Regions from separate parts of the Homo sapiens genome. Here region 1 is linked to region 2. The links come from fine-mapping of genetic effects on gene expression. A gene starts in region 2. The other region holds a variant in brackets. All regions are shown on one strand. Distances are between the middles of the regions. Region 1 overlaps CCDC13 (coiled-coil domain containing 13). Region 2 holds the start of HIGD1A (HIG1 hypoxia inducible domain family member 1A).

What was found.
Region 1: its variant is fine-mapped to the expression of HIGD1A in whole blood (TOPMed, PIP above 0.99).

Annotation. Positions count from the first base shown.
Region 1 is chr3:42,747,999-42,764,418 of GRCh38, reverse strand. It overlaps CCDC13 (coiled-coil domain containing 13), which reads left to right. Exons shown (of 16, transcript NM_144719.4): 2 at 6,068-6,294; 3 at 7,205-7,353; 4 at 11,702-11,844; 5 at 12,394-12,483. The coding sequence starts at 6,074. Among named protein-coding and RNA genes, the nearest start is that of CCDC13-AS2, 14 kb to the left of the region's middle. The variant C/A (reference allele first, on the strand shown) is at 8,260.
Region 2 is chr3:42,798,376-42,808,586 of GRCh38, reverse strand. It overlaps HIGD1A (HIG1 hypoxia inducible domain family member 1A), which reads left to right and starts at 4,097. Exons shown (of 4, transcript NM_014056.4): 1 at 4,097-4,151. It also overlaps the pseudogene MIX23P4. RefSeq lists an enhancer at 2,263-3,060 and a silencer at 3,922-4,141.

The sequences.
Region 1 (16,420 bases), 47 kb after region 2:
CAGATCTGTAAACTTTTATAAAAGAAGCTGGTGTAAACTAAACATAAAATTCAGAGGCCCCCCATCCATCTGAATGGACTTCCTTCTCAGCCAGGGCACTCCAAAGTTAACCTGAAAGACCAGTTCAGGCCTTGATGGGAAGCAAGGGTTGGACACGCCTCATTATACCCTCCTCCCTTTTGGAATTCAGGAAAAGTTGACCAACATTTAACATCAACACAGACCTTAAGTCTGATAAGAAACATTTACAATCTATTCTCTCTGAAGCCTGCTACCTGGAGGCTTCATTTGCATGATCAAAACTTTTATCTCTTTTATTCTAACCCAGATATTCCTTTCTATTTATAGTAACTCTTTTAACCAATTACCAATCAGAAAAATTTTAAATCTACTTATCACCTGGAAGCTCCCCCCTCCCAACCTTGGAGTTGTCCTGCTTTTCTGGACCAAATCGGTATATATCTTAAATGTATTTGATTGATGTCTCAGGTCTGCCTGAAATGTATAAAACCAAGCTGTGCCCTGACCACCTTGGGCACGTGGTCTCAGGATCTCCTGAGGGCTGTGTCACAGGCCATGATCACTCACATTTGGCTCAGAATAAATCTCTTCAGACTGGGTGCAGTGGCTCACACCTGTGATCCCAGCACTTTGGGAGGCTGAGGTGGGTGGATCACTTGAGATCAGGAGTTCAAGACCAGCCTGGCCAACATGGTGAAACCATGTCTCTACAAAAACATACAAAAATTATCTGGGTGTGGTGGTGCATGCCTGTAGTCCCAGCAACTCAGAAGGCTGAGGCAGGAGAATTGCTTGAGCCCAGGAGGCAGAGGTTGCAGTGAGCCAAGATTGTGCCACTGCGCTCCAGCCTGGGTGACAGAGCGAGACTTCATCTAAAAAAAAAAAAAAAAAAAAGTACATCTCTTCAAATATTTTACAGAGTTTGACTGTTTTTGTTGACACTGGAAATCTGATATTGAAACTACAATTCTTTGAATGTTGGCAACAAATTCAAATCCTAACATAGTGTTCTGTAAGAGCCAAACAAAAATGTCTGTGGGATGTGTTAAACTAACTGTAGCCTAAAGCTGCCTTCTTATATATTCTAAGTTCAGCCTAAAGGTTTCTCTGTACGTAGTAAACTGTAACCTGACTAGGAATTTAAACAGACTGCAATCTACTCTTGTACCAGTCACAGAGTTTCAGCCAATCACAGGCAGCCAGCTATTCAAATTGTATTCAAAAAAGGCAAACAGCCAGCTGTAATCAGTCTAGCTGTTTCTGTACCTCACTTGTGCTTTCTGTTCATCACTTTCCTTTTTCTGTTCATAAATCTTTTTCGACTAGGTGGCAGCCCTGGAGTCACTCTGAATCTGTTCTGGTTCTGGGGGCTGCTAGATTTGTGAATCATTCTTTGCTCAGTTGAATTCTGTTAAATTTGATTTGTTTAAAGTTTTTCTTTTTTTATTTTGGAGACAGGGTCTGACTGTCACCCAGGTTAGAGTGCAGTGGCGCGATCACAGCTCATTGTAGTCTCAACCTCCTGGGCTCAAGCTGTGCTTCCACCTTGGCCTTCCAAAGTGCTGGGATTACAGGTGTGAGCCATCATGCCTGGCCTAACGTTTATCTTTTAACAAAGGATATAGCCTTTGGGCCAGCTATTATACTCACATGTATTGTTTATTACAATGAAAGAATACGGGTCAAAATCAGCAAAGAGACACATAGGGCAGAGTCCAGGAGACACCAGGTGCAAGCTTCCAGTTGTCTTCTCCCAGTGGAGTCATGTTGACAGTACTTACTTCTCCCAGAAACAATTCGTGGCAACTTACATGGAGTACTGCCAGCCAGGGAAGCTCCCCTGAGTCTTGGTGTCCAGGGTTTTTATTAGGAGATGGTTACGTAGGTACAGTTGACCTTAGTCACTCGATCTCCAGCCCCCTCCAGCCTACCCTGCACCTGGCAATGAATCACATTGTTAATTAACATGGACTGGAATGGCCCAAGGTCCCCAGGTGAAGAAAAACACTCTCATCAGGAAGGATGGTCCAAGGGCTCAGAGATTCTCTCTTAGGAGCGGGTCAAAGGCCAAACATGTTTTTTGGAATGTGCGGGTGTGCACAATACAGGTTTTCAGAGTTAATTCTTTATAGTTCCTCTTACTGGGCAGAGCTGCCTGGTAAGGAATTTCAACATAACACCAGCTTCTGCTTTTGTTTGACCTTTGCCAAACCCTGGGCTCAGCCCACAGCACATTAAAACCAGCTGGGCAGCAGTTAAACCATCCCATGCTTGGTCTCCACTCCAGACTAATTTAAATCAGATTCTCTAGGGGTGGGCCTGGTTATCAGCATTTTTAGATTGTATCCTGGGGATTTGGTATTGAAGCAAGTTTAAGAGTAACTGGGTACAGGCTCTGGGACCACCCCTGTGTGTGAGATGGAGATAAGTATATTAAGAAGGTACAGATAGAGCAGTTGAAGCTGTTTGGGTAGGTAGAGTATTCCTCCTGGCGGGTCAGAAAAGGACCATGGTATTCATGCTGGGTGTAGGAGGACCAGCAAGATTTAAGCCTTGGGGGGAGAAGGAGGTATAGGAACAGAGGAGCAAGTCAACACAACTAGCTAGAAGTTAGCATTATGAAAGGGAAAACAGGCTAGAAGGACACAGAGGCCAAATCCAAAGCGCTTAATGCCATTGGACTTGGCTTTGTGGCTAAGGGGCATCTGCTGAAGCTTTTTGCACAGGAGTCTGTCAGGCTCAGAGCTGTGGTTTAGAGAAACTTGTCCCTCAGCAAATGTTATTCATTTGTTCAGCAAGTATTCATTCCATGCCTGCCATATACCAGGCCCTGCTACAGGCACTGAGGATACAGCAATGAACAACACAGTGCCTGCCATTGTGAAGCTGGTGGGGAGGGAGAGAGGCAGTCAACAAGTAAACAAATCAAAATATAATGTGTCAGATGACTCTCAGTGCCATGGAGGAAGACAAAACAGGGCAAGGGCATGGGGAGCGAGGGCAGGGATGCCTTCTACAATAGGATATGAGGAGACCTCTGTGATAAGGTGACATTTGAGAGGAAGTAGGTAAGGTAGATGTCTGGGGGAAGGACATTCCTGGAGAGGTAACAGCAAGTGCAGATACCCCAAGGTGGTTATGAGCCTGGTATCAGTGGGAATGGAGACATGGGGGCAGATTTTAGGACATTTATGGAAAATAAACAAGATTTATGATTAATTGGATGATAGGTAGATGATGTGGCTTGAGGTTGGTTTAAGGCAGGGATGCTTACCACTGGCTACACTTTAAAATCGTGAGGGGAGCATTTAATAATTCCAGTGTCTGTGCTCTATTATTTCATTTATGTGAAGTTCAAACAGACAAAGTATCAAGAATGTACAAGAAACTGATCATTCAGTAACAGTGAGTGATTGTATTGTGACTGTAAATTGTATTGTCTAATACAATTTAAAAATGGGCAAAAAATGTGAATAGACACATCACAAAAGAAGATATACACATGGTCAACAAGCACATGAAAAGATGCTCAACATAACTAGTCAACAGAGAAATACAAATTAAAAACACATTGAGATACCATTTTATTTTTATTTTATTTTAATTAATTAATTTATTTATATTTTATTTATTTATTTATTTTGAGACAGAGTCTTGCTCTGTCACCCAGGTTGGAATGCAATGGCGCAATCTTGGCTCACTGCAACCTCGGCCAGGCTGGAGTGCCATGGCGCAATCTTGGCTCACTGCAACCTCGCCCAGGCTGGAGTGCCATGGCGCAATCTTGGCTCACTGCAACCTCGCCCAGGCTGGAGTGCAATGGCTCAATCTTGACTCACTGCAACCTCTGCCTCCCAGGTTCAAGTGATTCTCCTGCCTTAGCCTCCTGAGTAACTGGGATTACAGGCCTGTGTCACCACACCCAGCTAATTTTTGTATTTTTAGTAGAGATGGGGTTTCTCCATTTTGGCCAGACTTGTCTCAAACTTCTGAACTCCGGTGATCCACCCACCTCAGCCTCCCAAAGTGTTGGGATTACAGGCATGAGCCACTGTGCCCTGCCTATTTATTTATTTATTTATTTATTTATTTATTTATTTATTTAGAGACAAGAATTTTGCTCTTGTTGCCCAGGCTGGAGTGCAATGGCATGATCTCAGCTCACTGCAACCTCTGCCTCCTGGGTTCAAGCAATTCTCCTGACTCAACCTCCCGAGTAGCAGGGATTACAGGCACATGTCACCACGCCTGGCTAATTTTGTATTTTTAGTAGAGATGGGGTTTCATCATGTTGGTCAGGCTAGTCTCGAATTCCTGACCTCAGTTTATCCACCCACCTCGGCCTCCTAGAGGGATGGGATTACAGGGATGAGCCACCATGCCCGGCTGAGATACCATTTTACATACTAATGAGAAAGTCTAAAATTTAGACTGACTAGCCTAAATGCTGACGAGGATGGCGCAACTGGGACTCCCATTGCTAGTAAGAATGTAAAATGGTACAACCACTCTGGCAAACAGTTTAGCAGTTTCTTATGAAGTTAAACATAAATTACCATATAAGCCAGAATTTTCACTTCTATGTATTTACCCAAGAGAAATAAAAACATACATTCACACAAATACCTTCTTATACATGAATGTTCATAACGGCTTTATTCATAATAGCCAAAACTGGAAACAGCTCAGATGTCCAATAACAAGTGAATGTATAATCAAATTCTTGTTTATTTAAACAAGGTAATATTACTCAGTAATAAAAACGAATGAGCTTATAATGTGTGCAATGACATTGATGAATCTCAAAAAGGTAGTGCTGAGCAAAAAAGAAGCCAGACACAAAAGGCTAACGACTGTATGATTCTAGTTATATGAAATTCCAGAAAAGGCAAAACTGTAGTGAACAAAAGCAGACCAGAGTTTGCCTGGGATTGGGATTGGGATTGGCTGGAAATTGACTGCAAAAGGGCACAAAGGAGGATTTTGGGGTGATGAAAATGTTCTTTCACGATGGTGGAGGTGGTTTACACAAGTGAATATATTTGTCAAAACTCATTTGTACACATAAAATTTGTGTTTTTTTTTTTTTTGGAGACAGGGTCTCACTGTTACTCACAATGGAATATAGTGGCACAATCATGGCTCACTGCAGCCTCCACTTCCTGGGCTCAAGCGATCTTGCCACCTCAGCCTCCTAAGTAGCTGGGACTACAGGCATGCACCACCACAACCAATTTTTTGTAGAGATGGGGTTTTGCCATGTTATACAGGCTGGTCTCAAACTCCTGGTCTCAAGCAGTCTACTCACCTTGGCCTCCCAAAGTGCTGTGATTGCAAGGCATGAGCCACTGCACCCAACCTGGTGGATTTTATTGTACATAAATTATTCTTTGATAGACTGACTAAAAAGAAACCAGACAAAATTAATCTTAGGTGGTAGCGGTCAGAATAATGGTTACCTTGGGGGATGATTCACTGGAAGGGGCACAAAGTAGCCTGCTCAGGGACCGTAAGTGCCCTGTACCTTGATCTGGGTGGTCACCACAGAGGTATATGTCTATGGAAAGATTCACTGAGCCGTATGGTCAGGATTTATGTACTTTATTGCATGTGAATTATACCTGAATTTAAAAAGAAAAAGAAGAAATGATGGCCAAGCCCTGTTCCTAGAAACTGGGATTTAGCTGGTCTGGAAATGGTCCCAGGCATTGTTATTTAGGAGTTCCTAGGGGATTTCAATGTTCAACCAGAGTTGAGAACCATTGATTTAAGGGACAGGCAAGAGTCAAGTGTTGAGTCTGAGTGATGGAGACTATTCTGATGCCATGTGCAATCTGGTGGCATGTTCAGGAACTGGGGAGGATGCTCAGTTCAACCTTGGGTTTCTAGTGATCTGAGGTGAGGGTGGAGCTTCCAAGCTTCTGCGTGGACATACATGCAACGCGAAGCAGTAAACTCCAAGGCTGGGGCTGCAGACAGGGCGGACTGTGTGCTGAGCGCTCGGTGTGGAGTTTGCTTCAGCTGAGGCTTCATTTCTGATGCCTAGGGCAGGATGGCAGCAGATGAAAGCTCACAGAACACTTTGCGGCTCCAGTTCAAGGCAATGCAGGAGATGCAGCACAAACGGTTACAGAAGCAGATGGAGAAAAAGAGGGAAAAAGAACTGAGCCTCAAAAGCAGAGCTGACGACCAAGAGGAGCCCTTGGAGGTTTCAGATGGCCTCAGCCTTCTCCACGCAGGGGAGCCAAACTCGAAAAATAGCTTTGAGAAGAGGTAAATGCAAGTTTGAAATCTCTCAGGGGTGTGTGTGTGTGTGTGTGTGTGTGTGTGTGTGTACCACCGGAGCTATAGCAAAACTTGTAAAATGCAGCTAAAGTGATAGAAGGAAGCTTAGAGCCTTAATTATAGCTGCATTTAACAAGTTTTGATACAGCTTCTGTGGTCAATCCATTCTAAATGCTTTATAATACATATTATGATTTCTTCTTAACCCATAAATAATTTAGGAGTATAGGGTGTTTTTCTAGTTCCAAGCATATGATGAGTTTTGGGTTTTCTTGTTTTATTTCTATTTTTTATTATTGATTTCTAAAACAGTCACTTGCCATTAGAGAAAATAGTCTGTATAATGTTATTATTTAGAATTTGCTAAGATTCCCTTTATAACCTATAATACTTTTTTTTAAGAGACAGAGTCTTGTACTGTCACCCGGGCTGGAATGCAGGATGATAGCTCACTGCAGCCTCAAGCTCCTGGGTTCAAGCAATCCTTCCACCTCAGCTTCTAGAGTCACTGGGATTACACGTGTACACCACCATGCCTGGCTAATTTTGTTTTCTTTTATTTTTAGAGACAGGGTCTTTCTTTGTTGCCTAGGCTAGTCACAAACTCCTGCCTTGGCTTCCCAAAGTGCTGGGATTAGAGGCATGAGCCACCACACCCAGCCCTGTAATATATTTTTATGCATGTTCCATGGATGCTTAAAAGAAATATGAATTATGAGTGGGTTTTTTTATAACTCCCTATTTAAGCCAGCTAATGAACGACATTGAAATCTTTCTTCTTTCACGTCAGTGTGTCTGCATCTGCGTGTCCATCTGTCCACCTAGGCAGTGGAGGCCTGACCCCTGCCCACCAGGGCCTTTGCCTTGGAGGAGCATTAATTCTGCCTTTGCCTTGTAGGGTGCTTGAAGATGAGATTGAACACCTTCGAAATGAGCTCAGGGAAACGGTGGACGAGAACGGGCGATTGTATAAGCTGCTGAAGGAAAGGGACTTTGAAATCAAACACCTCAAAAAGAAAATAGAAGAGGACAGATTTGCCTTCACAGGTAGCTCCACCATTGTTGTGATAGTCCTTGCCCTGCAGTCCAGGGACTTCAGATAGGGCAGACAGCAGGTTCCAGAGAGCAGATTCCCAAGAGAGTGCCAAGGGTCAGTTGTGATCAAGCTTGTCCAGAGGAGTCCTGGAAGTGAGGGAGAGGGTAGAGGAAAAGAGCAGCCCCAGGGAGGCCAGCCCACCAGAAAATGGGAGCACAGGGAGCAATGAGGGATTTAAAAATGGGCCAGAAGGGCCAGCAGGCAAGCATCATAGGCAATGTTGGTGATCCAGCTGGGACTCATGACAAGGGTTTGCCATCATGCTCGCAGCATGTAAAGGGGCTGGCAGGATCCATTTCTCCTTGGTGCACTGGCTCACATGTTATGTTGTGAACATAAAAAAGGCCCAGCAGCCTGCAGTGAGCTATGATCACCCCCACTGCACTGAACCCTGGGCAACAGAGATCCTGTCTTGAAAAAAAAAAAAGCCCCAGTAGAGCCAGGTATGAACTCTACAGCACCTGCTGTTGCTGCTCCAGAAAGGTAGATGAGTCACCTGTTCTAGGAGGATATCATGGGACCCAACCACCAACAAGGTGTGGGCTGGGTCTTGGCCCTGTAAGTCTGGGCTAGACCTTGGCTGTGTTGGTGGAGACCTCATGGTGGCCCCATGAGTCTGGTGAGGACCTTGGCTTTGCAGGTCTGGGAATGACCTTTGATCATGGTTGTGAGCTGGACATTGGCTCTGTGGTTATGAGTTTGACTTTTGCCCTGCTGATGTAGTGAGGACTTTGGACTTGATTGTCCTGTGTTATGTATATACCCATTGAGCAATTCGCAGATGGCTAATAAATAAGAAAGTATTATAGATGTCACCAATCACGGAGAGCAACAGGGCTGACTCAGCATCTACCAGA[C/A]TATTGTCCTTGCCTTTGAGAGTAAATGCGTTTGAGGATAGGTACGTTCATAGGACCAAAGCTCTGGTCAGTCAATGCTGAATTACAAAGCAAGGGGAATTTGGTATCCTAAAGACTCATGGTAGCCTAATGCACCTCCCTCCATTCTTTGGCCTTTTCTGTCTGAAACAAAAAACACAAAGCCTGGCTAAGGAAGCCTACACTCAGCCTGGTTACAGATTCAGCTGTGGAAGGGGCCACTTGCACTTTTGCAAGGCTGTAGAGAAGCTGATGGGCTCCAGGGGGAGCAGGAGATACATCTCCACCCAGCAGACCTGGGAAGCAGATCTGGGGTTACTCCCTCTTCCCCAGCCCCTCTCATTGTTAACTGTCTCTTGCAAGCTTTGCCAAAGCCCAGACTTGGTTGTGGCCTCATCTGACTGCCAGCCCTAAGCGTCCCTGAAAACCACTTAAATCCAGTCTTCACTCTGAAGTCACCATTTCTGATTTTCATTCTCACGTTTTGGAGAGAAAATCTGACAAGCCCATTTATGTTTTTAATTTTTTTCTTTTTGAGACAGAGTCTTGCTCTGTTGCCCAGATTAGAGTGCAGTGGCACGATCTTGGCTCACCACAACCTCCACTTCCTGGGTTCAAGTGATTCTCCTGCCTCAGCCTCCTGAGTAGCTGGGATTACAGGTGTGTGCCACCACACCCAGCTAATTTTTGTATTTTTAGTAGAGACAGGGTTTCACCATGTTGGCTAGTCTGGTCTCGAACTGCTGACCTTGTGATCTGCCCGCCTCGGACTCCCAAAGTCCTGGGATTACAGGTGTGAGCCACCGCGACTGGCCTCCATTTATGTTTTTAAACTGAGCTGCAAGTGACAGGCTACTGAGAGTTGATAGATCGGTTTCTTTTGGCTGGATTTTTAGTGATTCCTTTGGGTTTTGTTTGCTTACTATATTTTTCGTACAGTTTTTTAGTGATCTAGTGATTACAAAATATTTATTACCTTTTCATAGTCTACGTAGAACTAATATTTTACCACTTCAAATGGAATGTAGAAACTTTACCACCATTCAGGTCCCTTTACCTCTCCCTTTCTATTGCAGTTTTTATATGTATTATATCTATATATATTGAAAATCCCATCAGTCAATGTTATACTTTTTGCTCAACTATTATATGTATTTTAAAGAACCCAAAGGGAAAACTATTCTATTTAGCCAGATAGTTAGCATTTCTGTGTTTGCCCATCCACTGCCGCCCCCATTTATCAAGGGGTTGCAGCTTCAACAGTAGAGCTTGCCTGGAGACAGGGTTGGGAAAGAATAGGAAAAAAAAATACCCAGAGGATTTTTTCCATTCTGTCTGAGCCCCACTTCCTGCTCTTTGGACTAGAAAGACCTTCTCTTGAACCTCTTTCTGATAGCCAGTTCCAGAATTTGTGCTGATTTGAGTCCTGGGAGGAAACGTACCACTGGACCATTTGTAATTCTAGGTCCGGTTTCCTTCCCCAATATGCTTGCTACCATTTATGTCCGGAACCCTCAGGTAGCTGCTTCACACATCCTATCCAGGGCTTTTGGTTGTATTCAGCAAAAGAGACAGGGTAGAGTGCGCTTACTCCATCTTAACCAGAACCAGACCTCTGCTGAAACTGCATTTCTTTAACTGCTAGAGTTCATGATTTTCACAGTGATCCTTTATTATCACCACCCCCGTTACCCTCCTGACACACAACCTATTAAAGGAGCCAGGGAGCAAAGTGTGCCATCTTGGTGCTGAATGGGGCCTGTCTCCCTCTAGATACTCCAGGGCTCCAGGTCTGCTCTGAGCCTTTTCTCTTGGTGTGTCCTTGTCTTCTTCAGCAGACATGAGATTCCAAGGGCAGCTACTCCTAGTTGCCCCACTCACTGCCTCGCCCAGGCTGGCAGGAGCAAGCCTGGGCTGAGGTGATTTGAAAGCCATAAAGTGCCTGTTTGCTTTCCACCAGTTGTCACCCTTCTTCTTGTTCTGAGGCATATGATGGTCATGTTAAAAAGCAGGACTAAAAAATAGGACTGCCAGTTACTCCCTGCTATGGTGTCAGAAGTGTTCAGGAAACTTGCAGACCATCTGACCACCTCTGCCATTGCACAGATAGGGGAGCTGCACTCCAGAGAGGGCAAGGGACTGTCAGGGCTACCCACCTAGTCGATGACGATGCTGGACTAGCTCCCGGTGCCTGCCTTCCACACAGCTCCCATACCATACAACTTCCCCATTCACATCCTCCAGCCACCTTCCACAGCCTCCTTCCTTTGCCCACTGCAAGTAGCCTTCCAGCTACTCTGGAGTCCTTGATGGTCCTCAGATACTCTAAGCACATTCCACCTCCAGACCTCTGTACTTGCCATTTCCTCTGCTTAGAATGTTCTTCCTAGGTGAGAGCACTCTTCATGGTTTGAGCCCTCAGTTCATTCACTCAGGTCTCTCTTCACACATCACCTCCTCAGAGAGCCTTTCCTGGCCACTCCATCTAAAATAGCATCATCTCCCTCGTTCTTACCCCCTTGCCCAGCTCCAGTGTATTTCCTAGCACTTATTCCTGCTACATATTAGAATACATATTTATTTCTTTGATGTTTTAAATTATCTGTCTTCCCTACTTGAATGTAAACCCCATAAGTCTTTTTTATCCACCACTGAATCCCTAACACCAAGAGGACCCAGCACTTGGTAGAAAATAAATATTTGCTAAATGAATGTATGCCTTTCTATTGGGTAGGCGTTACCACCAAATTCTAAGAAACAACCACATAATCTCAGCAGCAGTAAGCATTTATTTAGCTTAAACATCTGGGGGTTGGTTGGGGATTGGCCGATCTAGGCCAGGCTTGGCTAGATTGGTTCCACTTTGTTCAACATGTCTCTCTTCTATTCTTGAGACCAGCCAGCCAGGTATGTTCTTCCTGTGGAGAGGGCATAAGCAAACACAGCGAATTTAACTGCACGAGTGCTTTTCAAGCCTCTACCTTATCTGCACCTTATCTGTTAACATGCTATTGGCCAAAGCAAGCCAAATGGTTGAGCCCAGAGTCATAGAAGGCCCAAGGGGACTACATCCTGCTCATTAGAGGGCACAGCAAAATTACTGGGATATGGATGTAATCCTATCACTGAGGATTACATGAAGCATCGGAGTGATAAACCTGAGTCTCACAGAATTAAAACTCTGCTTTCTGTTTTTATCATTTTCCTAGAACATACTGAACCTCTGAGTGGCTGCATTTCCACTCATTGGAGTTGGGTCCCAGGGCTGCTAGGTATATGGTGACCCTCCTAAGTTAGTGCCCCTTTATGAGCATTCATGCCAAGCAGCTTTAGCTTTTAAGACCCTGGTGCTGTTAGTGGTGGAGCATGAGTTTGATGTGTATGCCTGTGTTTTTAATTGACCTCACCATTCCTTTCATTTTAGGGACAGCCGGTGTAGCCGGAGACGTGGTCGCCACCAAAATTGTGGAGCTATCAAAAAAGAACCGGCTGTTGATGGCAGAATCAGAGGGTGCAAAAACCAGGGTGAAGCAGCTGACCAATCGCATCCAGGAGCTGGAGCGGGAAGTGAGGGGCCTTGGTCATTCTCCCTCTGGAGGGGACTCCTAGCATGGGCAAGAGGGAACCTCCCTAGCTTCTCCATATGTAGCCGGGAGAGCTGAAGTTGGAAGGTTAAGAGGCTTTCTCAAGTCACGCAGTATATGGTGGTGCTGCATTTTAAATCCAATTCTGTTGCCCTCCAACAGGCTTCTTGGTGTCTCTGGCCTCATCTGTTCATCTGTAACCTGAAATCCATCATTCTTTTTTGCCCCGCCTCCTAGACTATTGTTGGAACTTCAGGAGACAGATTATAAGTGTACCATTATTATTTATTAAGCTGTTAGTAAACCCTTGGGCTACTTTTATAGTACGATTAGGGAATGGGTCAGACAATCAATTAAACCCTCTCCATTCCAGAGCGGTTTCTAAAGGAGAATGCTGCCATTAATGATCCTAAAGTGAGCTAAAAGGACACACCACCAAGATAGGTAACCACACACACAATGGCACCAGAGTGCTTTCCTTGGGCTGCACAATCGCTGAGCAGAGTATTAAGCACGAGGTTTGCTTTTTCAGCTGCAGACAGCCCTGACCAGGCTGTCAGCCAAGGGGGCCACCGACGCAGGAGCCAAGCCACCGAGGGCCCAGATGGGAGACAGAGCATTGGTATGAATTCTCTTCTGTGCTGGGAAGTCTGTGAGGCAGCCATGGGCCTGGGCCTCCCCTCCTCCACAGGTGTGTAGGTACCTCTACCCGAGGTCCACCCCCAACCCCCAACCCCGCTGCCGAGCCAGGTGCCCATTGTCTACCATTGCTGCATCCTCAGAGCAGACATCAGAGAACAGTACCGAGTGTATGGCCTGAGGCCAAGAATGTCGTGTCGGAAGCTATGGAGGGTGTAGCTCCAACTCTGTCTCCAGAAAGGAAGGCTGGGAGGAGCCTGAGAACCCTGGAACACTAGAGCCTGAGGATCAAGAGGGAAGGCCTGGTCCAACTGACCTCCCACTGTCAGCCCAGCCATCTCCTGTACAGCATCCTCACTGGGGACACATCCAGACTCCACCTTACTCCAGGGACAGGGAGCTCACTACTGCCCAGTGGAATCCTGTTCTTTATGGGGCAGTTCATATTATGAACACTTTCCCTTTCGTGGGGCTCCAAATCTACAGAGTAAAAGTGGCTATTGGAAATGGGGACTTATTCCCCAGAGCCCATTTTACTAAACCAGTGACAGTTCATGAAACTCAAGAGGTGGGAATTGCAGCTCCATGAAAGGAAGTCAGTCTGACCTAGTGGGTTGGTTTATCCCCAAATCAGATAGTAAATATCATCAGAGTCTAACATTCCAGGAGGCTTCACCAAGGGTTTTCTTGGGAAGCCAGGCCAGTTGGTGAGAGAGGCAGCCAAGCCCCGGGACTCCCAATTTGGTGCTTGTTTTCTAGCCCCATCTTCCCTGCTGCCTGCACCTCAGGATCAGACTGCCCTGTGCCTTCCTTGAGGATAATTCAGTCCTCGCTGTGCAGTGATGGGCCCCTCAGGTTCCGGCGGGGATGGGCCCTCAGGTTCCGAGGTGAATGTGCCTCCTCAAGAGTAGTCTTGTGTAAACCTGTCTCATTGCTGGGGAAGTAGAAGAGGGGCTCTGCCCTCTACAGGGGCTGAGTATTCTTCAGGGCCTTTCCTGGCTTCAGGGGACACTGCTAAGCTGCCCCTGGTTTATTCCACGCATTGAGCACCTCCACATTCCGAACTAGGGCTGCCCTGGATAGGAAACTGCTTGTTCAGCCTGATGGGATTTTCTAAGCCCTGTGGCACAGAGAATCAAAAATAGAGCCTTGACCGGGTGAGGTGGCTCATGCCCGTAATCCCAGCACTTTGGGAGGCTGAGGCTGATGGATCACTTGAGGCCAGGAGTTCGAGACCAGCCTGGCCAACATGGTGAAACACCATCTCTAGTAAAAATACAACAATTAGCCAGGCATGGTGGCGAACGCCTGTAATCCCAGCTACTCAGGAGGCTGAGGCATGAGAATCGCTTGAACCTGGGAGGCAGAGGTTGCAGTGAGCTGAGATAGCGCCACTGCACTCCAGCCTGGGTGACAGAGTGAGACTGTGTCTCAAAACAAACAAACAAACAACTACAACAACCACCAAAAAAACAGAGGCTCTGTCTATGGAGAATCCCAGAGGAGGAATGAGAAGTCATTCGAAGGCAGGATGTGGACAGGGCCTTCAGAGATGGCCCCGGTGCTCTAAGCTCACAGGGGAGTCCACCCTCCATTAAGGTTGCAGCTGGAAGGTGGGACGGAGGAGGGCGTCCCTGAGCTGGCCTTACTGGAGAAGGAAGATGGGGAAGGTGAACTGAGTGTCAGCTGGATAACATTTGACTGCAGCCCAGAGCTCACACGGGAGAAAAGGGGAACGAAAGCCAAAAAAGCTGGGGTGAAGTCACCCATAGAGGGAGCCCTTGAATGGCAGCTGGAGCAGGAGTTTTGACTTTATTCTGTGGCCACAGGGAGCCTGGGAGGTTCCAGGTTCTGAGAGAAGAGTGTGTGATGGGCCGCAGGTCTCAATTCATCAGCACCACGTGTTCTCCCTGGCATCTCCTGATCAGAGCGAGAGCAAAAGCAATGTTTCCCCTCATAGGCTGCTCAGGGCGGCCCAAGCCCGAGCCACACTCCAGAGGCCTGCAGGCTCAATCCACATTCCAACCCTAGGCCTCCAAAGCACATTCCAGAGTGGAGCTGAACACCCTTCCCTCTGCTTGGGGCTTCAGGAGGCCGTGATGTGAGTAGCGTTGGCATCATCTGCTCCCCATGTACTGCGCTTTAGTTATTTTCTCAAAGAAAACAGCCTCGGGTAGGGGAGGGAGCGTACCCATACCCAGGTCCCCCACAAAGCCTGTGGAATTTCACTCTGGGAAGAAAGAACTCTGAAATGGCTTAGAGGTAGGATTAGCTCAACTGCCTAAGCTAGGAGGACGGGGCCTGATCCAGCCCTCTCCAGAACACCATCTAGCCCTCAGCCCACTTGTCAGCTGCCCACTCAAGCCAGGCTAGGCCTGCCAGCATTGCCCTCCATCAGGACCTGCCCCAGACAGCACCCTTGACATGCGTTGTCCTAGCAACCCTCTCAGGTTCCCTGGAGATTGGCATTACATATCCCCATTTTACAGATGAGAAAATGAGGCTTGGACAGGGCATCACTGCCCAGGTTCTAGAGCCAGATCCAATCTGTATGCTTTTTCCATGCTCTGAGCAGATCAAAGAGATGCTGCAGGGTCACTGCAGCCATATGGAAGCACATGTACTCCCACAGCTCTCAGCACCCCCACTGTCAGGGCCACTGGGGCTCATGGCGCTAGAGATCTGACAGGCAGGGCGGGGCGTGGCAGGGGGTGGAGGGGTGTTGCTTCCCAACCCAGGGCAGATTCAAAGCCACACATTCAACAGGAGAAGAGGCAGGCACCCAACAGAGTATGCAGGGATGGCAGGCGGCCAGACAGGAGGAAGAACACAGAAGAAAATATACTTTAAAAAAAAGGATGGCCGGGCACGGTGGCTCACATCTGTAATCCCAGCACTTTGGGAGGCCAAGGCAGGTGGATCACCTGAGGTCTGGAGTTCAAGACCAGCCTGGCTAACATGGTGAAACCCCATCTCTACTAAAAAATATACAAAAATTAGCCAGGCATGGTGGTGGGCACCTGTAATCCCAGCTACTCGGGAGGCTGAGGCAGGAGAATCGCTTCAACCCGGGGGGGCGGAGGTTGCAGTGAGCTGAGATTATGTTTCATATAAGTTCCGAGTTGGCACATTCTGTTCACGTTGGCTGTTCTCTTTAGCCTGATGGTGGTGCTCTGAGGAAGCGGAGCAGGAAAGTATTTGTATACTCATTCCATAGATGAGGACACTGGATGAGGCCAGAGTTTCTGGACCAGGTGTTCATGTCTAGTTTCTTTGGCCAGTGGTTTTCAGCTGGGCTGCCCAGAGCCTCTGGGGTCCATGGAACTTCCCGGACCCAGTATACTTGGATCTGTCTTTCACACTAGCATTCAGAGGAGATTTTGTTTGTGCCTGCTAGAGAAAGGTCAGAAAGCCACTGTAGTACCAGCCCTGCTTCCTGAAGTTCAGCTGCTTTGCCCTGTTGGGGCAGCAGCAGAGGGCCTCAGCGTCATTGCCTGATGGGATGCTCAGCCTGACAACCAACGTTCCTGTGGCCACAATGCCCAGCATTAACAGCAGCTTAAATTGGAAGAGTCAGCCAGGGCAGGGGAAGGACAAGTATTCTTTCTCATCCCACCTGTGTCACCCCAACCAGCTGTATGCCTGAAGGCAAATTACCTCCCCTCTCTGGGCCTTATTTTCATCATTATGGAAGGGGTTTAAATGGGCTGACCTTGAAGGTCCCTTTGTCAAATATCTATGAGTCACAGGAGTGTCTATTGAAGACAGAGAAGTAGTCAGCCCATTTAAGAAAAATTTCCATCCAGATAGTTTAAATAAAACATTGGGTTAAAAAAAAAAAAGACATTGCTAAGAGTTTCAGCAGGCAGTTTTCATGGTTGCTGTAGTTCTTCAAGCCACAGAGATGAGCATTTGGAAAT
Region 2 (10,211 bases):
TACACTTTTGTCGAAAGATGGGACTTTTTTCTCCTAAATTCAACCGTCATTCAAACTGGGTCAGACTAATGACAATTCTACCAAGTAGTGTATACCAGTAGCCTCAATAAAGAGATTTTGGGGGACAAATGTGCATCTTCCACACAGTTGTAGCCATAGAGTGCATATCTAACTTCCTTAAATTATCTATGTGGATCTGTCATCCTATAATTTGTCTAAATCCTTATTTTTTAATATTATGAATAGAGTCCAGCTTATATATAAAAATGTATTTCCTTTCTATGTCTTAAAAATTACTTGCTGTTGAGCGATACTATATTCCTAAAATATAGCGGAATCAAAATTCCTAGTTTACAGTCCTCTACCTCTATTACTTACTAGCTATTTGACCTTTATACCAATCAATCATCAGAGATGATTGAACCAGAGCAACTCCATCTTGAATAGGGGCTAGGTAAGATAAGGCTGAGACCTACTGGGCTACATTCCCAGACAGTTAGGCATTCTAAGTCACAGGATGAGATAGGAGGTTAGGCATTCTAAGTCATAGGATGACATGGGAGATTGGCACAAGGTACAGGTCATAAAGACCTTGCTGATAAAACAGGTTGCAGTAAAGAAGCCAGCTAAAACCCACCAAAACCAACATGGCGACGAGAGTGACCTCTGGTCATCCTCACTGCTACACTCCCACCAGCACCATGACATTTTACAAATGCCATGGCAACATCAGGAAGTTACCCTATATGGTCTAAAAAGGGGAGGCATGAATAATCCACCCTTTGTTTAGCATACAATCAAGAAATAACCATAAAAATAGGCAACCAGCAGCCCTTGGGGGTATTCTGCCTATAGAGTAGCCATTCTTTTATTCCTTTACTTTTCTAATAAGCTTGCCTTCACTGTACTCTATGGATTCGTCTAGAATTACTTCTTGCAGGAGATCCAAGAACCCTCTCTTGGGGTCTGGATTGGGAGCCCTAATAGTAATTGGTTTAAAAGGTGCTTATACTTACAGCTTCAAGGGCAAGGTCTGACTCTTTTTGCACAGTACACAGCAAGGAATTTTTAAAGCAATAGCTAACATTTTTCATGCCAAGCATGGGGCTAACATGCTACATATATTTCCTCTTTAACCATCATTCATGTTACCCCCCATTTTACAAGTGAAAAAAGTGACACTTTGAGAAATCAAATCCAAGGTCACGGCTAGTATGTTGCCAACTAGTTGCTCTCCGCTGATGGGGCAGTATATCTTATTCTCTGGAAATTAACAAGTTAGCTGATGTTAGTTTGAGGCATATACATTGCCTTCAGAAATGAATATGCTTTGGTCACTGCTGCCATTAGCCTTTGTGTTTACAGAATCAAGAGACTAATGACTTCCGGTTGACCTTCATATTGAAGGCAGTGGGGTTTATCCTATAGTTCCTGACTATCCCTACTTATCTTTTAAACCCTCCAGTTATTGCAGCATTTACATCTTTCTTCATTTACCATTATTGAATTTCTATTGAGCACACAGGCAGCATTCAAGGAGATACCAGGATCATCCAGACAAAATATGTGCCTTCAAGGAGCTGAAAGCTACCATATAATCAAAGTATGAAGTTCTCTCTTTTTTTTTTTTTTTTTTTTTTGACAGAATCTCTCTCTGTCACCCAGGCTGGAGTGCAGTGGTGCGATCTTGGCTCACTACAAGCTCCGATTCCCGGGTTCACGCCATTCTCCTGCCTCAGTCTCTCCAGTAGCTGGGACTACAGGTGCACGCCACCACACCCGGCTAATTTTTTGTATTTTTAGTAGAGACGGGGTTTCACTGTGTTAGCCAGTATGGTCTCGATCTCCTGACCTGGTGATCCGCCTGCCTCAGCCTCCCAAAGTGCTTGGATTACAGGCGTGAGCCACCGTGCCCAGCGAAGTATGAAGTTCTTAATCATCCATAGCATGAAATGTTTCTTACATGTATCTTAATTATGAGATGAACGATTTTCAAAATCCTGAGCCCATGACATTTAGTTCCTATCTGTATGACGAGCACTTGGTAGTCTGCCTTGTTTTGTGGTTATATCAAGAAACTCTAACTTAATCACAGATTTCTCCATGGTGCAGTTGTAGATGCTTTGCATCTGAGGACTAAGCTCTGATTTTTTTTATCATGCCCAAATTCCTATCTAAGGGGTCTGGGGAGTCATGCCCCACAAATAATAAGTTATCATCAAATGGGTTTTATTTAACTCTATATATCGTGACTTACTTTCCAACTTGACTCTGGCATAACATTATAAGACAAGGAAGAAAATAAAAATATTTTACCCCAAAACATATTTCTTTGCCATATCTTGAAATGGCCATACAAAGCTGTCCTTTGCGGGGAAAAATTCTCATCTGTAAAGAATCCCTATAACATAGCTAGATCTTTTTCTTCCAGGCCCCCCAATCCTAAAGAGATTAAAAGTCTAGCACCTTTCAAACATCTGAATAGGAAACATTTGTCATCTATTGTCTCTAAAGGCAGCCACTACAAGACTTCAAAAGAACCTTGGTCTCCACAATCTTTTATCTTAACTTGAACATTCCCTTTCTGTTGATCCCAGGTCTTCAGACAAACTCAACCAATTATCAACCAGAAAATGTTTAAATTTACCTATAGCCTGGAAGCCCCCTCCCCTCTCGCCTTTGAGTTGTCCCCCGTTTCTGGACCAAACCAATGTATTTCTTAAATGTATTTGATTGATGTCTCATGCCTCTCTAAAATGTATAAAACCAAGTGTGCCTGGACCACCTTGGGCACATGTTCTCAGGACCTCCTGAGGGCTGTGTCAGGGGCCACGGTCACTCACATTTGGTTCAGAATAAATCTCTTCAAATATCTTAGAGTTTGACTTTTTTCGTTGACCCACCAATTGGCCGGATTATTACTCATTATTTACTTGACAAACACATTAGGAGCCCTGTCCCCGGAAGCTCGCTGTCACGAGGGGCCTCTGACATCTCCTTCTTGAGAGAAAGGTCGCCTGGCCTGGGTGAGGTCGTAGTTCCCGCGACCCCGTGCTTGCAAGTACTGGCTGCCTCCTACTATAGTGTAAGCTCCAGGAAGGATCCCGCGGGGGACCTGACAGCTCACGGTCCTGGCCGACAACCGCCCTGGGAGCGGAATGGATGGAGCCCGCAGTCGTCCCGGCGCACTGGGCAAGCTCTGCTCCCACTGTGGCAGGCCAGATCTCCATTAGCAACCAGAGCAGCTCTCACCAACGCCTCACTGTCATTCTGATGCATGTATAAGTTAAACATTGGAGAAACTGGTGCCTTAGGAGAAAGGCTAGAATGTAAAGACAAGTCCATTAGGATCCCGCCTGAGCTTTTTCAACCCCTAGAGTTTAATTAAAATAATGGAGTTGTTCTTGCACACCTTGTACCAGGACCCACTTTAGATTATTTCCAAGGCTCTGAAGCAATTGTCTAGACACCTGACCCTATTACCGTTAAAGATTGGCTTGAGTGAAACACTTTGGCTTTCGACTTGTAAATGCACTGAATGTATTTAAGCACTAGAAAAACTTGTATTAATAATTTTGAGTTGGTCTGGTGAGTTACTCCGACCTTCTCCCTGTAACCTGTTGCAGAAATAAACTCCGTTCTTTCCCAGTCTGTCTGCATCTCGTTACTGAACGGCGAGAACAAGCAGTCGGACCCGGGTGGGTCGGGGAACACAACCTCACCCGCAGCCGAAACCCCTCACCCGCATCCCTTCCCGGCCCGTGAGGCGTCCGCAGGCGGCGGCGCTCGGGACACGGCGTTCGCGGTGCTCGCCTCCGCTGCCCGAGGGGAAAAGGGCAGGAGAAATCTGAGGAGTCCTTGGGCCAGGAGCCAAAGCCCCTCAAGTGCCCGGGCGCGAACCCCAGGCGCCGAGCTCTCACGTCTGTCTCCGCCAGTACGCTAGAGCCGGGGTAGTGGGCCAGCACTCACCGGCCCAGCCAATCCAGGACCCGCTCTGCACTGCCCCACCCGCCGCGCACACGCACGCGTCCTTTTGCGGCCGCTGGCCTCTGATTGGCTGGGACGGCTGTGGGTGGGGAGAAGCCGGGAGGACTGGGTGCGCCTGCAGGGATCGGAAGCCGGTTGGGGTGTGAGAGGTTTTCTCGCTCTAGGTAAGCGAAACAAGCCGGGGGACTGCGAGCCAGGGACTCGGGCCGCGGGGCGGGAAGAAGTGGGGCAGCGCTTGGCCAGGCCGAAAGGACTTTGGGGGTGGGGGCTGGGAGTCCGTGTCTCGAATGAGGGAGGAGAGGTGGAGTTGCCGGGGCTCAGGCCCGGCCTCGAGCATGGGCGGATGAGAGGAGTCGGGAGCCGAGGCCTAGGGTCCTTCGGGTGAGGGGAGACGGAGCCAGCGAGGAGATGGAGCAGAAGCTTGTGGAGTGAGTTGCCGAGCGGGGAAGACTCGCTGATGGGGTGGTAATGAGAGACGGGGGCCAGGAGGGTGTTGACTGGGCCCGACGGCGGGGAGCGAGGAGCGGGAGCTTCCCCGGAGCTTGGAACATTCTGAAGAGCGGGCTAAGCGGCAGGCGAGGCGGGATAGGAGAGCGAGCGCTCCGGTCACGGAGTCACGACAAGGTCACAGGAAGAGAGGCGGCGAGGAAGGTCGGGAGGTTGAGGGGAGGGCGTACTAGCAGAGGACCTTCCAGTCCTGGTCTTGCTTTTCTCCCCGACCTGGTGTTTCCTCCACCCTGGGAAAGTGATAAGGCCTAGGGTCCTGTGTAGTGCTTCTGTGACCGAATTAAATTTTTCTCCTGCCGAGTCGGCGGGTTAGAGATTACAAAGCACAGCGTAAGGGCAGAATTAGGAGCAGCCGACATGATGCAGCAGTGATATTCGCCTTTGTCTTAAATTCCCGGAGTGGGAAGCAGCTATTTCCCTCTTCGGAGTAATCCCCACGACAGGGATCCCTGCTTCCGGAAGTACAAAGGCACTTTGGAGTAAGACAGGTTTGGATGGAAAGTTCTAACAGGTTGAAGCGGTGACAACCTGGTCATGAAGCTCCAGCATGACACACATATTTGGAGTCCTGTATACTAGGAGTTCTCTTTGTGCACCAGAGTCACTTGAAGGGGCTTCTTAAAGATTCCTTGAGCTCTGCCCCAGACCACCTGAATCCGGATCTCCATGCTGGGGCCTTGGCAGCCATTTTAAACAAGCTGATGGGCGACTGATGCAAAATCAGTTTGAAGCCAGCGTTGCTTTAGATAGTAATTCCCGTGACAAAATGACTGTGAAGAAAGATCCTTCATTCAACCTGTTACGTCTCCTGATGCTGGACGGCTCATCTTCCCTTAATGCCTCTTTAGGTTCCCTGTGGAAAGGTCTTCAGTCGTGTCTTACTAAGCGTACAGAATTAATTTGTGCTCTCCAAACTGACTTTAAATATCTGGTTACTGGTGCCTTTTTTAGCGTCTATTCAACTTTCTGACAGAAATCTGGGACAACTACTGTGGGTGGATGAGAAAACGATAATGAAGGAAAGTCTGGCAGTGGTGTAGTGAAAAAAGTCTTTTCAAATCACAATTGAAATTGTTAGATGAGTTAAGTCACTGAAGAAGATTCCGTTTACCTTAGGCATGATTTTTTTATATATATCATTCAAAGAGAACAACGTGGGCTTCTGTTGAGTAATGGATTCTTAAATTTTCTAATCAGAATTCTTATCTGCCAATTTAATCTAATTTACATCAGCAGCGTAAGATTGATGCTTTGGCAATATATCGTCAATCAAAAGAACCCAGGACTCTCTATCAGAAGAGCTGGATTCTAATCCTACCCCACCAGACATGTATTCCTTGTACTGAGCAATTCGTATAACCCTCTCACAACCCTTTCCCCACCTGTAAAATAAGGCTATTGGCTTGGATTATTCATCTGATTTGTTACTCTCAAATTATATGATTAGAACTTATTGTTCCTGATACTTAACCAGTTTTCAATTCAGGTGGCTATAAACCATGAATACTTTGGAAACTTCTACGTGGTAATTAGACAGTTATCAAAATTTTGTATTCAGAGAGTATTTTAGATATGTACTATATGGGAATTATAATATTTTGACTACAGAATAACAAATAACTGATATGTGTTGGATTTTTAAATATTAATCCTTACTAATTTTATTCTGAAATGTACACATAAGGTATTCTGGAATCACAGACAGATTATCATCTGTCGTTTCAAGCAAATAATGACCATTTTGTTCCCCACACCCTGATGCTTACCGCAGGGGCTACTTTCTGAAACCCAGGTCAAATGCCCTATCCATACAAGCTTCAGAGTCTGTATCATAGATGAAGAACGGAGAAATAGGTTTTCTTCTGTTCTTGATTTATATACAGGAAAGAGACAACTAACCCCCTCCCTCCTGAAAGGAGAAAAAAAAAAAAACCTTTTGCTCCATTGACCTGTTGGAGAATTAGAGTCAGCCAGATGTGAGATAATTATAAGAAAAACTACCAACTTTCTTGCTATTTTTAAAAAACGATTTATGTCCTGTTTTTGTTTGTTTGTTGGGTCCCTCAGCAAGGGTCTTGCCTGTTGCCCCGGCTGGAGTGCAGTGGCTGGATCATGGCTCACCGCAACCTCCACTTTCCAGGCTCAAGCAGCCCTCCTGCCTCAGCCTCCTGAGGAGCTGGGACTACAGGTGTGCACCACCATGCCCGGCTACCAACTTTCTTGCTTTTAAAGACAATTCCCAAATGATTTTTTAGTTTAGAAATGATTCAGGCAAAAAAGGGGAAAACATGCTTTTATATCTGCAGAAGTTTTTAGTTTTTAAAAGTGGATTATGGTATATAATAGTTTTGTCCCCTGTGTTGCAAGGAACTAAGACCTCAGGTTATTTCTCTTTTCATAGGTACAATATAAGAAACATAAAAGAAATAAGCACTTAGGTACATACAGTTAGGCATTTTTCTTACTGATTAAACTCTACAAATCTGTATGATTGTTATTTTTTTGTACTCAATATTACTGAATAACCTAAGAATGCTTTCAGTTGTTGAGAAATGTAACTTTTAAATGTATTCAAGAAACATTTGTAGTGTACATATTATATATAGGGTATTGCACCAGGCAGTGGAGTTGGATACAAGCAGAGCAGGTATTGGTCCCTGACTTGAAGGATTCTAGCAAAAGAAACAGACAAACTGGTGCTTATAAGGGTTATAAGGAAAGTACAAGGTCCTATGGGACTGCATAACCAAAGCACTTACGAACTTAAAGAGACAAAAATTTCTGAGAGGAGGTCAATTAAGATGTGAACCTGAGTCCAGTATGGTGGCACCCAGTGGCAGTGTGAACTGTGAGGAGTTCGCCGAGTTCCAGGAATTACTCAAGGTGATGTGGACAGTTGATACAGACTAGTACATTAATTAAACACTACAGTTCCAACAGCTTCCTTTGCAGGGAAGATTGATGCCAGCCAAACCTGTAAACAACTTTGAGTCTTTGATGGCAGCTCATGCCAGTAGGGACAGAGTCATAAAAAACTATATAGCCCAGACCTCAGCAGTAGTAAAAAACCTCTGAGAAGAGAGAGAAAAGAATTTGGACGATTTAATATTGTTAAAGCAACTCAGAACAGAGCAGGCAAAGTTGAAATGGATGTAGTCAGAATGATAAATGACAGGAGCTGGAAGGAGTTTAATGAATGCTGCCGAATTCACTTCAAACCTCCAAATAAACAGAATAAACGGAGATACTTTTTTTTTTTTTAAAGGACCGGGTCATCTCATAAGAGCTAAGCATGACAAATGTCAACAGGGCGGGCTTCCTAGGATGATTTCTGAGCCAGTAGTCCAAGACCTTTTGTTGATTTCAGCCCCACTTAGGCAAGACCTCAAATATAAATAATTCTGATAATTATGGAGAAATCAACTGCTATTTTATACTGATTCTGTTAAAAAAAAAGTTTTGTAACTATTAAAATAATGTTCTGACTCAGTGTAAAAAAAGAAAAACCAAACCTGAAAAAAAAAATGGGAGGAGTTAGCTAGGAAAGAGTATCTGAAGGGGATGGAAAGGGAGGGAAACTCTCACAAGTAGAGGAATCAGCTTGTGCAAAGGCTTAGAGGTATAGAGAGCATCTTAAAAATATTTAATGTGGTCAGAATGTGGGGTTGGGAAGGGAAATGAAAGGATTTGTGATAAACTTCCCCTTTGAGAAGGTCATGTTTTTTTTTTCTTTTTCTTTTTCTTTTTCTTTTATTTTTTAAAATTTGAGACAGAGTCTCTCTGTGGCCCAGGCTGGAGTGCAGTTGCACAATTTCAGCGCACTGCAACCTCTGCCTCCCGGGTTCAAGCGATCCTCCTGCCTCAGCTTCCCAAGTAGCTGGGATTTCAGGCATGCACACCACTATGCCCAGCTAATTTTTGTATTTTTAGTAGAGATGGGGGTTTCACCATGTTGACCAGGCTGGTTTCGAACTCCTGACCTCAAGTGATTGCCCACCTTGGTGCCCCAAAGTGCTGGGATTACAGGCATGAGCCACCGCACCTGCCCGAGAAGTTCATGATTAGATATGAAGGCAACTAGTAAACATACTGGCCTAAAATAAATACAGTGTTTAATCTCTCTATCCAGTCCATTTATGCAGTTTCTTCAAAGCCAGTCTCAAGTGTTTCTCTGTGAAACGTGCCAAACCTCCTTTAGCTAAAATACATCACTCTCTCTAAATTCAGACCTTGTCTGTGTTAGGCTTTTGACAACTAATTACACTGTGATTGAAACCACCATTGCAAAATTATAACTGAGACAGTGAAAGAGATCTGACCTAGCCAAAAAAAGATGGAGCCAGGCATGATGGTTCACGTCTATAATCCTAGCACTTTGGGAGGCTGAGGCGGGCAAATCACTTGGGGCCAGGAGTTTGAGACCAGGCTGGCCAACATGGCAAAACCCCATCTATACTAAAAATACAAAAAAAAAAAACCAGGCATGGTGGTGCACACCTGTTATCCCAGCTGTTAGGCTAAGGCACAAATCACTCAAACCTCGGAGGCAGAGGTTGCGGTGAGCAAAGATCGAGATCGTGCTCCAGCCTGCGTGGCAACTAGACCCTGTCTCATAAAACAAAAATAGAAAAATAAAGCAAAGATGGTAACAGCCCTTTCCTAAAACAAACCCCCTTCTTGCCTGGGGACTAGACTGCCTTTGTAGGTTTAATGAATTAGCCACAGATTAGAAATTATGGTTTAGGAGTCGTGCAGCTGGAAGTTATAAGATTCTTTTTTTTTTTTTTTTTTTTTTAATTTATTTTTTTATTGATAATTCTTGGGTGTTTCTCACAGAGGGGGATTTGGCAGGGTCATGGGACAATAGTGGAGGGAAGGTCAGCAGATAAACAAGTGAACAAAGGTCTCTGGTTTTCCTAGGCAGAGGACCCTGCGGCCTTCCGCAGTGTTTGTGTCCCTGATTACTTGAGATTAGGGATTGGTGATGACTCTTAACGAGCATGCTGCCTTCAAGCATCTGTTTAACAAAGCACATCTTGCACCGCCCTTAATCCATTTAACCCTGAGTGGACACAGCACATGTTTCAGAGAGCACAGGGTTGGGGGTAAGGTCACAGATCAACAGGATCCCAAGGCAGAGGAATTTTTCTTAGTGCAGAACAAAATGAAAAGTCTCCCATGTCTACTTCTTTCTACACAGACACGGCAACCATCCGATTTCTCAATCTTTTCCCCACCTTTCCCGCCTTTCTATTCCACAAAGCCGCCATTGTCATCCTGGCCCGTTCTCAATGAGCTGTTGGGCACACCTCCCAGACGGGGTGGTGGCCGGGCAGAGGGGCTCCTCACTTCCCAGTAGGGGCGGCCGGGCAGAGGCGCCCCTCACCTCCCGGGCGGGGCGGCTGGCCGGGCGGGGGGCTGACCCCCCCCACCTCCCTCCCGGACGGGGCGGCTGGCCGGTCGGGGGGCTGACCCCCCACCTCCCTCCCGGACGGGGCGGCTGGCCAGCCAGAGGGGCTCCTCACTTCCCAGTAGGGGCGGCCGGGCAGAGGCGCCCCTCACCTCCCAGACGGGGCGGCTGGCCGGGCAGGGGGGCTGACCCCCCCCACCTCCCTCCCGGACGGGGCGGCTGGCCGGGCGGGGGGCTGACCCCCCCACCTCCCTCGCGGACGGGGCGGCTGGCCGGGCAGAGGGGCTCCTCACTTCCCAGTAGGGGT